Linked DNA regions of Homo sapiens. The protein of the gene in region 2 interacts with the protein of the main gene of each other region in a pairwise test. Each region holds a gene or a part of one and is shown on either strand. Other genes may lie near its edges.

Region 1 (3,808 bases), on a different chromosome or scaffold from region 2:
AGCAGCCAGGAGGCTGGAGTCCCATCTCCCAGACTTCCTGCACACAGCAAAGGGCTGAGAGCAGCCTGAGGATTTGGAGGGACCTCAGTGACCCTCATCTGGCTGTGACCCAACCCTGGATTCAGGGCAGCAGGGGAGGGCAAGGTGGAGAGAGCTCCTAGGACAGGGGGAAGCCCCAGGCTGGGGTGCCAGCCTCTGCCCAGTCCTGGCTGGCATTTGTGGCTGCAACCATTCCCACAGGTTCAAAGCCTAGCAGCCCCCACACCAGCATGGGGATAGGAGGTGGCAGGGAGCACCCGGCCCTGCTGGCTAGAGCCCCCTGGGTCCTTCCTGGTTCGCACTTGGACTCCCATGGGTGTCCTAACCAGGGATGCCCCGACACTCCCTCTTGAGCCAGGTCCCCCATCTTGGTAATGATTCATTTTCTGTCTGTGAGCCCCTGGAGGGCAGACCTGAGCCTGAGTCATCTCCGTCCTGGTCCAGCACAGGCCCAGTCCTTCTTTTCTGGCTGAGGACGGCTTAACAGATAAAATTAGGTGCCATTGATCCCATGGACAGAGGGTGACCCTGCCTGGGGGTCAAAGAACAACACAACAAAAGGTACAGACAGAGTCTCTAGGATGACGTCCCGAGTGGGGGAAAGGGCTGTGACAGTTACAAGCCAGAGGGGAAACCCAGCCCCTTTCTGTCTCCGGGAACTGGAGTTGGTAACCTCAGGAAAGGCAGGTGGCTGAGGACAAGGCCTGGTCTCTGCAGCCACAAAGACCTGGCTCTGTCACTAGCCAGCTGTTCAGTGTGTCACCTTGAACAAGTCATTTCCTCTCTCTGGGCATCATCAGAAAGTGAAGGTTGTACTGACGTTCCGAGCTTGCAAGGATCGGAGATGGTGCCAGTACACAGCCACACACAGAAGATCCTTAGAGAATGGTGGGTGGTGGTGTCATTACCATGGGCATTTGCAAAGCACTGAAACATGTCTCCCAAGAGATTTCCAGCAGGCTGCCTTGCAGCTCAGATCAAGAAGGTGACTGAGTGGGTGGTCAAGCTGGGAGCTCAGATGCAAGGGCACCAGTGCCCTTCACAATGACAGGCCCCTACTCTAGGACAAAGGTCAGAAGCTGCGGAGGGGCTGGGTGTATTAGTCCATTTTCACATTGCTATAAAGAACTACCCGAGACTGGGTAATTTATAAAGAAAAGAGGTTTAATTGACTCACAGTTCTGCATGGCTGGGGAGGCCTCAGGAAACTTACAATCATTGTGGAAGGTGAAGTGGAAGCAAGGCACTTCTTATGTGGCAGCAGGAGAGAGAGAGAAGGGGGAAGCACCACACTTTTAAACCATCAGATCTCGTAAGAACTTCCTCACTATTGGCCAGGCGTGGTGGCTCACACCTGTAATCCCTGCTCTTTGGGAGGCCAAGGTGTGCAGATCACTTGAGGTCAGGAGGAGTCCAGCCTGGCCAACACTGTAAAACCCCATCTCTATTAAAAGTACAAAAATTAGGCTGGGTACGGTGGCTCACACCTGTAATCCCAGCACTTCGGGAGGCCGAGGCGGGTGGATCACCTGAGGTCGGAAGTTCGAGACCAGCCTGACCAACATGGAGAAACCCCATCTCTACTAAAAATACAAAATTAGCCGGGCGTGGTGGCACATGCCTGTAATCCCAGTTACTCAGGAGGCTGAGGCAGGAGAATCGCTTGAACCTGGGAGGCAGATGTTGTGGGGAGCTGAGATCGTGCCATTGCACTCCAACCTGGGCAACAAGAGCGAAACTCTGTCTCAAAAAAAAAAAAAAAAAATCAAACCCGGGAGGCGGACCTTGCAGTGAGCCGAGATCAGGCCACTGCACTCCAGCCTGTCCAGGAGGCGACAGAGCGAGACCCTCTCTAAAAAAAAAAAAAAAAATATATATATATATATATATGTGTGTGTGTGTGTGTATATATATATATGTGTGTGTATATATATATGTGTGTGTGTGTGTGTGTGTGTGTATATATATATTAGCCAGGCGTGGTGACACACCTGTAATCCCAGCTACTCAGGAGGCTGAGGCAGGAGAATCACTTGAACCCAGGAGGCAGAGGCTGCAGTGAGCAAGATTGCACTACTGCGCTCCAGCCTGACTCCGTCGAAAAAAAAAAATCTCCCTCACTATCACAAGAACAGCATGGGGGAAACCGCCTTCATGATTCAATCACCTCCCACCAGGTCCTTCCCTCGACACGTGGGGATTACAATTCGAGATGAGATTTGCTTGGGGACACAGCCAATCCATATCACTGGCGAAGGTGTCACCACCTGGAAGGATGGACGGGGGCTCGTGTGGACACTGCCCCTGGCCACCAGCTTCCCTGGTGGTGAGCATTTATGCTGGGGCCTCACCTGCCAGTCCATCCTCCCTCCCACATCATGGCATGACACTCTCCCCCTTTAACCAGTGAGGAGACTGTCCTAAGGACACATAGCAGGTGAGTGCTGGAGCCCGGTCTTAAGCCAGGCATATCTAAACCTAAAGCTAGTGCTCCTAGCTACCAGGTCACACTGCCCTGGCAAAGGCAAAGGGCCTGAGGGAGGGCACCCTGAGCAGGCAAGGGGGGATGGAGAGGTAGGTGAGGCCCTTGTCTGTTCCTGTTGGTTCCTTTTGGTAGAGGGAGTGATAGCATGTCTAGAGTCTGGGGTGGGGCCAGCCCTTACCTCAAGGCTATCCAGACTTCTCCATCTTCCTCAGCTGCCCACTCTGGGACCTGCCTTTCTCCCCACCCCACTCCCTGCAGCTTCCCTGGAGGACGGTGCTGACCCACTGCTCAGGTGCTGCCCCTCCCAGCTGGCCAGGGCCTGACTCAGAGGGCCAGCGGGCAGGCAGGCGTGAAATTCTCCTGAGTCACGGGCAGGTGTGGGCCGCACCCGGCATGGGAAGGGAAGAGGATAGGGGCCCCCCAGACTGTGGCCCCATCAACCAGCCCTGAGCAGGCAGTCAAGGCTTAGGGACCCAAGAGCGGGCGGCCCAGCATCCCCTCAGAGCAGAGGGCACAGGTTGTGGCAGAGTTTTGCAAACCCATCTTACAAAAGCTCCCTCTTCATTCCTGCATTTTCATCTGTGTACAAAACCTGGCCTGCTGCCCGTTCATCTCACCTTCATGGAAAGGCAGCAGTGAGCTCAGGCTGGGCAGGGCTGGAGTAAGGGGCCTCTGTCCTGGGTGACCTCCTCCCAAGCCCAGGCAGGACAAAGAAGAAAGGCCCAAACATGGGGCACTGGGCTGGGCGTGGTGGCTCACCTGTAATCCCAGCACTTTGGGAGGCCAAGGCAGGTGGATCGTGTGAGTCCAGGAGTTCAAGACCAGCCTGGGCAACATAGCAAGACCCCATCTCTGCAAAAAATACAAAAAATTACTTTGGGAGGCCAAGGTGGGTGGATTGCTTGAGTTCAGGAGTTCGAGACCAGCCTGGGCAACATGGCAAAACCCTGTCTCTACGAAAAAAGAAGAAAAATTAGCCAGGCATGGTGGCCCACACCTGTAATCCCAGCTACTCAGGAGGCTGAGGTAGGAGAATCACCTGAGCCTGGGAGACAGAGGTTGCAGTGAGTCAAGATCGCACCACTGCACTCAGGCCTGGGTGACAGAGTGAGACCCTATCTTTTTTTTTTTTTTTTTTAAAAAAAGGCCAGGCGTGGTGGCTCATGCCTGTAATCCCAGCACTTTGGGAGGCCGAGGCAGGTGGATCACTTGAGGTCGGGAGTTCAAGACCAGCCTGGCTAATATGGTGAAACCCCATCTCTACTAAAAGTACAAAAAATTAGC
Region 2 (4,306 bases):
CCCACCTACTCAGGAGGCTGAGGCAGGAGAATGGTGTGAACCCAGGAGGCAGAGATTGCAGTGAGCCAAGATTGCGCTACTGCACTCCAGCCTGGCCAATAGAGTAAGACTCTGTCTCAAAAAAAAAAAAAAAAAAAAAAGTGGAATCCTGGAAGTGGGGCCAGGAATCATCTTTAAACAAGCTTCCCAGGTGATCCTGACATTTGAGAACTGCTAGATTAGGGATCTCTGACCTGTCCGAGAAGTCAGAATAGCCCACAAGACAACGTGAATTTTACAGAATCTTTTCACACTGTGGTCCATTACCAACAGGGAAGAGTCAGAAGCCCAGGCCCTGAGAGCACAAGGGCATGGTTATAGATGAGTAAGGTGACCATGGACTAGTCAACTCTGTTCTCTCTCGGGTCCATCCTTGTTTGGGGTAAATGGTGAGGTCAGTGTGGGAAGGTCCTGCCCTGTGCAGAGCACAGCTCTCTGTAGGGGCTTTGCAGAGCTACTGGGTGGGAATGGACCTGCAGTGAGGGTGGGAGGCCTGGAGTTTTTGTCCTTGGAGGAAGGTGAGCCAGGCCTCTCCGAGGAGGGGAGAAAACCCTGGACACAACCTTCCAGGGCTCCAAACTATCTGTGAGCATCCTGGACTCTGTGGCTCTAACAACTTAAATAATTTTTATTACAAAAGGAAGAAAAGACCAAAACATCCCCAAAATTCTCCCATGGGCTTCCCCCTCCACTCCAATAAATAAGGTATGGGAGACTGACCGGCGGAGGGGGTGGGGATCATGGTTCAGCAGAAGGGGGAGCTTAGCCGGGGGGGTGGCAAGCACATCCAACCCACCTCCCCCAGTCCCCGGCACTACGGTCACATTGGCCAGAACACAGAACTCTGCCCACAGACAGCAACAGTCTCTGGATGTGTCTTGAGGAGTGTGGCCGGGGAGGAATGTCATACCTCAGAATGGCCGGGATGGCTGCCCCACCCCTGTGGCCTTCCCAGTTCTGGACAGCATCGGGTCCAGCCAGATCCATGCTGGCTCCCAGGGAATTTAGCAGCATCAACTGAGGCGCAAGCCCACCCAAAGGGGCCTAAGATGGATGGAATGGGCCCTCCCCAATGGGGGAGGCAGAGTATGAAAACTCGTAGTGAGAGCAGGCTGAGTTGGGAGTCGCCGTGCCAGCCTCAAGGTCTCTAGGAGAGAGGGGTCAACAACCATCCCCTCGCCAGCTCAGCTTGCAGCTCTATGACTACACCACGACGGGGGTGGGGGACGCTGGTGTTGCCCAGTCAAGTCTCAATGGTGTATCTTCATGGCAGAGGAGATGGCAGGAGCCAGTGTCCCCCAGCTCAGGTCCCTTCCAGGGCCAGCTCCCTCCTGGCTGAGAGGCTTCTGGACCCAGTACAGCAGTTCCAGGAGGGCAGCGGTGGAGTCCTTTCAGCTCCCTGCCCCGGACATGCCCAGTGGGTGGAAGCTGCCCTCTTCTAGCAGGAGACGCCCCAGGCGGTAGAGCAGCTGGGGGTACCAATGCACACCCTCCCCCGGAGTCCAGCTGCCCCATGCCAAGCTGTGAAAGAGTCTCAGGGGCCAGAAGGCCAACTGAGCCAGGTGGTGGTCAGCCACGGCCGCGAAGCAGGATGCCACCACATCCTCCACCACCAGTGTCCCATGCTTTGTGAGCGGGGCGTAGGCCCCGAGGGCCACGTGTGTAGAGACAGCTGCCACGCGGGCAGGCTGCAGGCCTGGCACCCCAGCCACCAGCACGTACTGGCCAGGCTGCACGTGGCTGGCAAATGTGGCCCGGAAGCGGGCTGCCGGCTCCGTGTGATTGTCAGCCGTAAAGAGCAGGTGAGCGGGTGTGAGTGCCAGGCGGCGTGGGGGGTCCTGAGTCTCGATGACCTGGAAGGCTCTCAGCCTGTGAGGCTCGCGGTCCAGGAAAATGAGCACATCGCTGAAGGTGGGGCTCCCATCCTCCCCCATGGCCAGCACACGGTCTCCCGGCCTCACGGCTGACAAGGCCACACGCGCCCCACTCTCCAGGCGTACCTGGGCTCCGGCAGGGAAGCAGCCGCCCGTCTTGGCTGCGGCCGAGTGCTCTGTGGGAGAAAGGGACATGAAGGTGTTACTGCTGTGCAGCTCAGCCTCCTGGTCACAACGACCCTCCCTTGGCCACCCCAGCCAGCCAGAGCTCCTCTTGCTCCCAGAGAGCCCCCGTCACCATATCCCAGCTCCTGCCCCCCACTTCCTATGCAGGCTTGAACCCATACTTCACTGCCCCCATCCCCTTACTCCAATGTGATCTTCTGTGACCCCCCTCCCCAGCCTAATACCTTGCCAAGGAGCATAGTGGGGCTCCAAGACCCAGTGGATGAGAAGGAAAGGGCTACCTCATGGAAGGGGGAGGTTGCTTAGCTCCTCCGAGGCCTAGATGTTCTGTTATTTCTCACCCCTTGCTCAGACACTTCCCAAAAATTGCCCTCTCAGGCTGACTCCCCAGGTTCTGTAACAGAGCTGGACCTTTGAATGTAGGGATGTGAGAGGAGCCCACCCAGTGGGGCAAAGGCAGACTCCTGGGCAGCCTCGGAGTGAATGTTTGGGTCAGGGGCAGGCCAGGGGCGAGGACACAGTCACCATCTTCAGTTCACATGCTGAGTCCCTGTGCAGGGACAGAACACTGCGGCATCAGCAGGTGAGCTGGAGAACAGTGTTTGGGGGTCAGGAGTAATGAATGGAAGTGGTTGTCGTGGGTCAATGTTTGCAGTGAAGGGTGGATGGGCCTTGCAGTAGACACAGTTGGCAGGGGAAGTATTGAGTGGAAGGTTCAGGGTGTGGTTGTGGGTCAGGGTAGGGTCAGGAATATCAAAATGTGGGCCTGGGCTCAGTGTGCGGGTCTATGAGAGTGCAACTATTACACGCTGCCAGTGTGAAAGGCTGAGCCGGCAGCCAGGTGGGGCTTGGCTGGGAGCCACACAGGAACCATTTGGAGCCTCCATGGCTGGGTTCAGTGTAGGTGACAGGGTGCTGACAAGACTTGAGGGAGGGGTGAGGCCCCAGTGCCTGCCAATTCTGATCAACAATGCGGCCAATCTGGGAAAATCCACTTTATTGAGTCCACTTTGTTTAGTCTGGCTCTCCTGGCTGGCTTTGCCCCAAAATGTCCAGCTTCAGGGCACAGGGGGAGAGGTTGGGGACGCCTGCGCCCCAGGGAGGGCTGACCTGCAGCTGGGTGGTGGGTTCTGAGCCTCTGGGCTCCTGGTCAGGCATGCAGGTGTCTGGGCATACCCCGGCTCCTGGCCCCACCACCCGCCTTGTTCTGTGCCAGGTGGGGTGGGGAGGCCTTGTCTGGCAGCCTGGCTTCCTCCATCTGTCCAGCTTGCTCTGTCTTGCACCTCCTGTGGCAGGCTCTGGACTGTGGGCCACCAGGTCAGCACCCAGCAGCCCTGGGACAGGGCCCTATCGCCCTAGGCTCCTACCATGACACTGCCAGGCATGGGATGAGCAGGCAGTCACGGTCAGGAGCAGCCTTGGAGAGCGCCGCTGATGTCCTCTTCCCCCGGATCCCTGCCTCCATCCCCGGGCGGGCTCTTCACCTTCTCGGCACTACTCCTCCTGCCCATGCCCTGCGGCCCCGGCCCCGGGCCCAGCCCCCCGGCGGCGGCTCACCGGACTTGACGGAGCAATGCACGTGGGCCTTTGACTCGTAATACACCCAGTCAAAGCCGGCCTCCACTGCCAAGCGCGCCAGCAGTCCATACTTATTGCGGTCGCGGTCTGATGTGGTGATGTCCACCGCGCGGCCCTCATAATGCAGGGACTCCTCTGAGTGGTGGCCGTCCTCGTCCCAGCCCTCGGTCACCCGCAGCTTCACACCGGGCCACTGGTTCATCACCGAGATAGCCAGCGAGTTCAGGCGGTCCTTGCAGCGCTGGGAGAGGAATGTGCGCGAAATCAACCAGAGCGAAATCAGCCGGAGGAGCCGGCCGAGGTGCAGGTGTAGGCGCAGCCTCGCCCAGAACTCTCCCGCCACACCCAAGGGAGCTGGAAGCCCGGGAGGGTGCTGTCCCTCTCCCTTAGGAACAGAGGGCCCTGAAGTGCTCCCTCCCTAGCATACAGCCGCCCCCGGGGATCTGGACCGCACGGCGGTATCACAAATCTGGAGGAGGCATGGAGGCAAGCGCCCTGGCGGCGCCTTCACTGGTAGGTGGAGGTCCCCTCTCTCCTGTGCTGTCTTCAGCTCCGGGTATCCATCCCTCCACAGACAGGACTACACCTTTCAGCGCCCGGTCCCTCTGTGCCTCCAAGGCAGGAGGGCC

The links.
Region 1: the proteins of IHH (region 2) and RHOD interact in a two-hybrid assay, tested with the Homo sapiens proteins (one large-scale study listed by BioGRID and IntAct).

Annotation. Positions count from the first base shown.
Region 1 is NC_000011.10:67,059,847-67,063,654, forward strand, and holds part of RHOD (rho-related GTP-binding protein RhoD), read left to right. Parts: intron 1-3,808. UniProt on the Homo sapiens protein: Involved in endosome dynamics. May coordinate membrane transport with the function of the cytoskeleton. Involved in the internalization and trafficking of activated tyrosine kinase receptors such as PDGFRB.
Region 2 is NC_000002.12:219,053,777-219,058,082, forward strand, and holds the end of IHH (indian hedgehog protein preproprotein), read right to left. Parts: intron 3,919-4,306; coding exon 3,657-3,918; intron 2,090-3,656; coding exon 1,431-2,089; 3' UTR 648-1,430; downstream 1-647. UniProt on the Homo sapiens protein: Plays a role in embryonic morphogenesis; it is involved in the regulation of endochondral skeleton formation, and the development of retinal pigment epithelium (RPE), photoreceptors and periocular tissues.